2 linked regions of the Homo sapiens genome follow. The protein of the gene in region 2 purifies or fractionates together with the protein of the main gene of each other region. This does not show direct contact. Each region holds a gene or a part of one and is shown on either strand. Other genes may lie near its edges. The genes, in order: SMARCAD1 and NOPCHAP1.

Region 1 (4,032 bases), on a different chromosome or scaffold from region 2:
TCTTTTGCACAGTTAAACAGTCCAACTGTTCTTCAGTTCTCATCACTTGATGCCTCTCTTCAGATACCTCCCTCCCTCAGTCCTTCCCTCTCCACTAGCTTCTTGTCCTTGGTTAACAAACGCTTGGCCAGGTGCGGTGGCTCATGCCTGTAATCCCAGCACTTTAGGAGGCCGAGGCGGGCAGATCTCAAGTCAGGAGATTGAGACCATCCTGGCTAATACGGTGAAACCGGGTCTCTACTAAAAATACAAAAAAAAAAAATTAGCCCGGCGTGGTGGCGGGCACCTGTAGTCCCAGCTACTCAGGAGGCTGAAGCAGAAGAATGGCATGAACCCGAGAGCAGAGATTGCAGTGAGTTGAGATTGCGCCACTGCACTCCAGCCTGGGTGACAGAGTGAAACTGTCTCAAAAAAAAAAAAAAAAACAAAAGAACGCTCAATTTTCAATAATCCTGAAACATATTTTCTTGACATTACTTCCCAATCAGGTTACCTATTTCTCTCTTTCCTTTCCTGAATGAATAATCTCTATCTCATCACCATTCTACTGAAACTGTTAAAGGTTAGTAGTTACTTTTAATTCCAAGGAAACTGGTCACTGATCAGTCCCCACTCAACTTGACTTCTCTACAGGATTTGTTACTAGACAACTAAATACCAAACTAGGTATTTAGGTATCCAGGACACTATCATTTTCTATGACTATTCTAGTCATCCTTCAAATTTTTCATTGGTTTTCCTGCCCATTGTCAAATGATGTTTTTTATTGTACACCCTGCTTAGGACATTGATGAGTCCCAAGTTCTAGGGTTTAGACCACTCTCTGAGCTCTAATATTCAACCATCTACTACCTTGGTACTAAAATAGGATGGGTAATGCAAACACAACATAATTTTTAGTATCTTTCTCCTAAACTCACCTCTTAATTCAGTCCATGGTGTCAATCCTCCAGCTGTCCAAGCAAGGAACATTTGAGTTATCTGTAAATCCTCCACATTCAACTGATCACCTAATATCATCAAATGCGTATCATTTACAACTCCCCTCAGTTGCCTCCTCTGTCATCTCTACAGTCATTTCCCTACATTGAGGCTTCAATGAATACAACAGCTTCACTAATAGCATTTCCATAATGAAATGCTCTATGATGTGTACCAAATAAGATCTACCGTCCCTGACACAGGATATAAAGGCCCCTCACAACCCAATGGTTTACACTTCTATCTTTTCAGTTTCATCTATATTGTCTAAAACCTCCTGTTCTATAATCTGCCCCCAACCCTCCACACACATATTAGACTCTTGGAGGCAACATATATTTTCAACTCTCTCATCATTTGTTCACCCAGTAAACAATGATTTCATTGTTTAGAGTCCACTCCAAAGGTCATATCTCTGTGACTTTTTGTGATCCTCCCCTGAAGAATGGATAATTCAATCATTTGTGAATTACAGATAGTGATTCTACTTTGCTTAGTATTTTGCCCTATTATATGGTTTTATCACACCATACTATTTTAACTATATATTTACATACCATTTTCTCCTGGTGCTCTTGGAGGATCAGGCTTCACTCATTTTTATTCTTTATTCATAAAATATAGTAGGATCTCTCTTCCCTTTCACCTGCCATTATTTCAATCCCTCCAAACTCACTGTACTCCCAAAAGTCAAAGAAAAAAAGGAGAAATAATGTGTAAATAACAATCATTGACAACTTTGGGCACCGAGAAGAGTAAAATAAATCAGGGGGCAGAGGTTAAGTGTATGCCCTCAAATCCAAAGGCTGGCTGGGATTTAGAGGGGCATTAGGGAGGATGTCCTGTACCAAAAGAAGCTTCAAGCAACCATGGCCAAAGAACACCTGATGGCTAAAGGGACTATTTTAAGGTCCTATTTTAAAATAAAGGTGTGGTGGCTCATGTCTGTAATCCCAGCACTTTGGGAGGCCAAGGCAGGCAGATAGCCTGAAGTCAGGAGTTTGAGACTAGCCTGGCTAACATGGTGAAACCCTGTCTCTACTAAAAATACAAAAATTAGCCGGCTGTGGTGGTGTGCACCTGTAGTCTCAGCTACTTGGGAGGCTGAGGCAGGAGAATTGCTTGAACCCAGGAGGCAGAGGTTGCAGTGAGCCGAGATTGTGCCACTGCACTCCAGCCTAGGTAACAGAGCAAGACTCCATCTCAAAAAAATAATAATAAATAAATATGTATAGGGCTGGGCGTGGTGGCTCATGCCTATAATCCTAGCACTTTCAGAGGCCAAGGCACGTGGATCACTTGACGTCAGGAGTTTGACACTAGCCTGGTCAACATAGCGAAATGCCGTCTCTACAGAAAATACAAAAATTAGCCGGGCATGGTGGCATGAGCCTGTAGTCGCAGCTCCTCGGGAGGCTGAGGTATGAGAATCACTTGAACCCAGGAGGTAGAGGTTGCAGTGAGCCAAGATTCTGCCACTGCACTCTAGCCTGGGCCACACAGTGAGATTGTCTAAAAACAAATAAATAATAAATAAATTTTAAAAAATGTATAAAGTACTAATAATGCCCACTCATCATGCAATAATATTTACTTCAATGCACTTATTGAGGGCCTACGACAAGCCAGTCGTTGCCCTGAACAATGGAGATAAATAGGTGAACACAACAGATAAGGTCCTGCTCTCATGAATCATATGTTCTAACAAGGGAGTCACAACTATATAATGTAATGTTAGCTAGTGATACACAACTACATAATGAAAGGTTAGCTAGTGATAAATACTATGAAGAAAAATAACAGTAAAGCTGGGGTAGGGTGGGCTGGGGTGGGTGGCTATTTCACAGGGTGATCAAGGAAGGTCTTCTTAAAAAGGTGACATTTTACTGAGATTTAATGAAACAAAGCATCTGAGTCATATGCAAATATCAGCAGGAAGAGTCTTCCAGGCAAAAAAGCAAATTGGAAGAAGCAAAGATGGGACCTTGCTTGAAAGATTCAAGAAACAATGTGGTGGTGGCACAGTAACTGAAGGAGGGTCATAGGAAATGAAGTCAACTCACTAGATAAAATAACAGGATTAGTCAAAAAGAGTGATTACAGGTAATTTTGACTACATACAATTTCTGTCCTGTAAGCTGACTTAGTTTGACCTGACACTTTACTGTAAATAAACTAACGCAGCATTATCCCACAATGGGAGTATGAAAAGTTACCACATGATAAAGAAGTAAGGTCAATAGTCACATCCTATTTATAATTCACCAATTTTCATCTCCAGTCCTGACCTTAAAATCTAACTTCAGTATCTTGTCCTCTCCAGAGATCCAACACTCAATTCTGAATCCCCACTTCCTCAGCAATCCCTAGACCCCAGGCTAAATTAGCACTTGGGGGCAGGACCTTTGATTTTTATTCTTATTTATTTATTTATTTTGACATGGAGTTTTGCTCTTGTTGCCCAGGCTGGAGTGCAATGGCACAATCTCGGCTCACTGCAACCTCCACCTCCAGGGTTCAAGTGATTCTCCTGCTTCAGCCTCCCGAGTAGCTGGGATTACAGGCATGTACCACCATGCCCAGCTAATTTTATATTTTTAGTAGAAACGGGGTTTCTCCATGTTGGTCAGGCTGGTCTTGAACTTCCAACCTCAGCTGATCAGCCCGCCTCAGCCTCCCAAAGTGCTGGGATTACAGGGGTGATCCACTGTGCCCAGCCAGACCTTCGATTCTTATTTGAATTCTTAAAGACATTTACCTTTTTTTTTTTTTTTTTTTTTGAGATACAGTCTCTGTCCCCCAGGCTGGAGTGCAGTGGTGTGATCTAGGCTCACTGCAACCTCTGCCTCCCAGGTTCAAGCAATTCTTGTGCCTCAGCCTCCTGAGCAGCAGGGATTACAGGCACGCTCCACCATGCCTGGCTAATTTTTGTATTTTTAGTAGAGACGGGGTTTCACTATGTTGGCCAGGCTGGTCTTGTGATCTCAGGTGATTTGCCCACCTTTGCATCCCAAAGTGCTGGGATTACAGGCTTCAGCCACCGCGCATAAA
Region 2 (3,500 bases):
GGCATTAGAATCTCATAAAGAGCGCACAACAACCTGGATCCCTTACATGCACAGTTCATAATAGGGTTCACGCTCCTTTTGGAATCTAATGCCACTGCTGATCTGACAGGAGGCAGAACTCAGGTGGTAATGCGCTCTCACCCACCGCTCACCTCCTGCTGTGCGACCTGCTTCCTAACAGGCCACAGACCAGTACCAGTCCACAGCCTGGGGGTTGGGAACCTCTGAGATAGAGAACTGCAGGCAGGATCATATGGACCCTTTGAAGGACTTAGTTTATTTGAAACGTGATGGGAAGCCCCCAGGTCCCAAACTGTGTGAACAACGGACCCCAGGGAAGGCACAGTGAACGCAGGAAAACCTGCTAAGAAATTGCTGCAATACTCCAAAGGAGAGGCCATAATTACCTGGGCCAACAAAGGTCCAAAGGAACTGCAGAGGTTGTACAAAGTGGTTGGATTTGGGATCTATTCTGGAGGGAGAGCTGAATAGAATGGCTAATGAATTAGATATTATTAACAATTGTCTCAGCTTGGTCCAGACACAGATATTATAAACGGAATTCCACTGCAGAAACAAGATATGAGTATAAACTGAGAGAACATTTTTGCACATAGCTTATGTAATCAATTGCTCTCTTCCACACATCATTTATTTTTGCATACTCAATAAATCAGGCTATGATTACCTCTTTTGGGGCTTGGACAGAAAAAAACCCAGTTAGGACATCGAGTAAATTAATGCTTCAGAATAACAAATGTAGCATTTGACTTAGGAAAAAAAACCTTCCTGTGACATCATATGACTAAAATGACTAAATCATAAAATGACTATGTACCTATACAACATTGGAAACATGAGCTAACACCAGGAAAATGAAAACTTGAAAATAAAATGGAAAAGTTCTCTTCTTCTTAGGTGACAGGCAGACCAGTAATTTCACCATATGAAAACAAAGCATAGTTACCATTTGTATAACTTTACTATGAGGCCCATCAATGTTTTCAATATTGAAACGACCAGGTGGTGCAGCTGCCATTTCTTTTCTTAGCTTTTCATTTGCCCGTGCCATCTGTGGGAGAAATGTCTGTACCTGGTCCAATACTGTGGAAAGTAAATACAGCATATCAACATTTATGCTAGTAAATTCTGAAACCCAGGATTTCCTATAAACACTTCTGAATTGAGTATTAATAATAACAACCATAATTACATATCTTTTAGTTCCCTTCATTTAAAAACCCTCCATCCTCTTCTGAATAAAACAGTAGGACTACACAATCCAGCAATTGTTTCACAAATGTTTTATGTTTCTCATATATCCCCAGGACTGTAAACTCCTAGAAGGCTGGCATTCAACAAATAGTAACTAAATAGGGAGGCAGTGTGACTTAACAGTTAAGAGCACCAGGTTCTGAGGCTTTAGGGTACGAATAACTAGGTATGTACAGAATCCTAGTTCTACCTCTATCTGAATTACCTTGGGCCAGTTAATTAAGTAGTGGTTATTTCTGCCTACCCAACATACGTTCCCTTTCTTCTGATAATATAACCCTGGCTTTCCTTTTAAGCTTGTGTCACTCTTAGTCACTCTTGCCCCTCACCCCATACATGCCTACATCCTCCATATCCTTGGCCACTGTACCATGCTTTAGTGGCATCACAGTGACACGCTGCTCTAGTCGGGCCAATAATAGATCACTCAGGACCTTTTGTTGGAACTGTTGAGAGAGAAATCTTTCTGAGTGAATGACTGAGTTGGCTGAATATAAGGCTGAAGCTGCTGATAAACTGGCAACTCTCCACACCTGGGGGAAGAGTACGCTCTAGATTAGGCCAATACCCAGGAAAGCAGAACTAAGAGACAGAGTGGCTGACCTCTGAGGACACTGAGCACCTGGATCCAGATGCACCTGAAATCTACTGTGCCTGGAGTATTTTTCCCCCAATAAAAAGAGCCAACATAATTTCTTTTTTTGCTTAAGGCAATCTGAGCTGGATTTTAGTCATTTGCAACCAAGAATCCTAATTAATACATTTAATTCTACCTCTTGAAACCTCAGCGTACTAATCCATAAAAGAGGAGTGATAACTGTCAGTCACTGTGCCAAATACAGAGCAGTCAACAAACAAGGATATTTATTTTCTCTCTCAAAAGAGGCCCAGCACATAACCACGCATATAACAGACTCTCAAAACTTATGTAACTGCTATGGCTACATAACAGATGACTAAAATGTCCAGCGTATGGAAGAAGAAAAGAAAATAGTGGCCAAGGTCAAGTAGACGACCTCTATTTGTAAAATAAGGTGCTGGAAGGACTCCCTAAGAGCATGCACACAAATAAAGCCCGACGTAATAGTGAATGTTAGCTCTCATTCCCCTTCAGATTACAGAAAGAGAAATTACTAATACAAATAAAGGTATTTCTCTGTCCTCAGATTTAAATATATTGCTACAGATAGAAAATCTGGTACTGCTTTTGTTTCCAACTAATGAATCAAGTAGAGCAAAACAAGTACCAAAATGTGCGGCCTGAACTGTGATCCTCAGAAGCCAAATAATTCCGTGGTACTCTAGGAGAGTATATGCTGAACCCTGAGGCTAGTCCAGTCGTGGTTCTTCTAAATTAAATAATACTCAACACACAACACCATAATATTCAAAATGTCCAACATCTAATAAAAAATTAGCAAACATGCAAATAAACAGGAAAACATAATCCATAAAGAGTAGGGAAAAAAGATTCAGAAATGATGCAGACGACAGAATCAGCAATAAGAATGTTAAAACAGCTCTTAGAAATATACTTTGTATGTTCAAGGAAGAAAAGAAAAGCACAAACACAAGGAAAGAAAAAAAGATGTAAACAGTCTCAAACTTCTAGAGATGGAAACTGTATCTACCTTGAAAAAATACATTTGATAGAATTAACAGATTAGACAATATAGAAGAATAGTGAACTCAACGAAATCAGCGATAGAAGCTATCCAAATTGAAACACACAAAACATAAGACCCAAACAAACAATCAATGAGCTGTGAGACAACCTCAACTGGCAAAATTAGGTGTCATTGGAGTCCCTTCAGGAGAGGCGAGACAGGAGCAAGCAACAACAACATCCCTAAAAATTTCCCAAATTTGATAAAAATTATAAACCCATAGATCCAGTAAGTTCAACAAACCCAAGCTCAAGACTCACAAAGAAAACTACAAAGGGCACATCACCATAAAATCGGTAAAAACCAGTAATGAAGGGAATCTTAAAGGCAGCCAGAGAAGAAAAGAAACACCATATTCATGACACAAAATGACAGTAGACACTGGCGTCAGAAACAATGCCACTGAAAAGAAAGTGTAGTGATGTCTTTAAAGTACTGGAGAAAACAGAAAAAGCAAAAAACCACACTGTCAACCTAGAATTCTAAATCCATTAAAGCATCTTCCAAAAACTGAAAGCAAAATACTTTCTCAGACACACAAAGGCTGGTAAGTCTATC

The links.
Region 1: the proteins of NOPCHAP1 (region 2) and SMARCAD1 fractionate together in Homo sapiens (co-fractionation; one large-scale study listed by BioGRID). This does not show direct contact.

What each region holds. Positions count from the first base shown.
Region 1 is NC_000004.12:94,210,659-94,214,690, reverse strand, and holds part of SMARCAD1 (SWI/SNF-related matrix-associated actin-dependent regulator of chromatin subfamily A containing DEAD/H box 1), read right to left. Parts: intron 1,657-4,032; exon of another isoform or gene 1,539-1,656; intron 954-1,538; exon of another isoform or gene 921-953; intron 1-920. UniProt on the Homo sapiens protein: DNA helicase that possesses intrinsic ATP-dependent nucleosome-remodeling activity and is both required for DNA repair and heterochromatin organization.
Region 2 is NC_000012.12:104,989,316-104,992,815, reverse strand, and holds part of NOPCHAP1 (NOP protein chaperone 1), read right to left. Parts: intron 1,105-3,500; coding exon 968-1,104; intron 1-967. UniProt on the Homo sapiens protein: Client-loading PAQosome/R2TP complex cofactor that selects NOP58 to promote box C/D small nucleolar ribonucleoprotein (snoRNP) assembly. Acts as a bridge between NOP58 and the R2TP complex via RUVBL1:RUVBL2.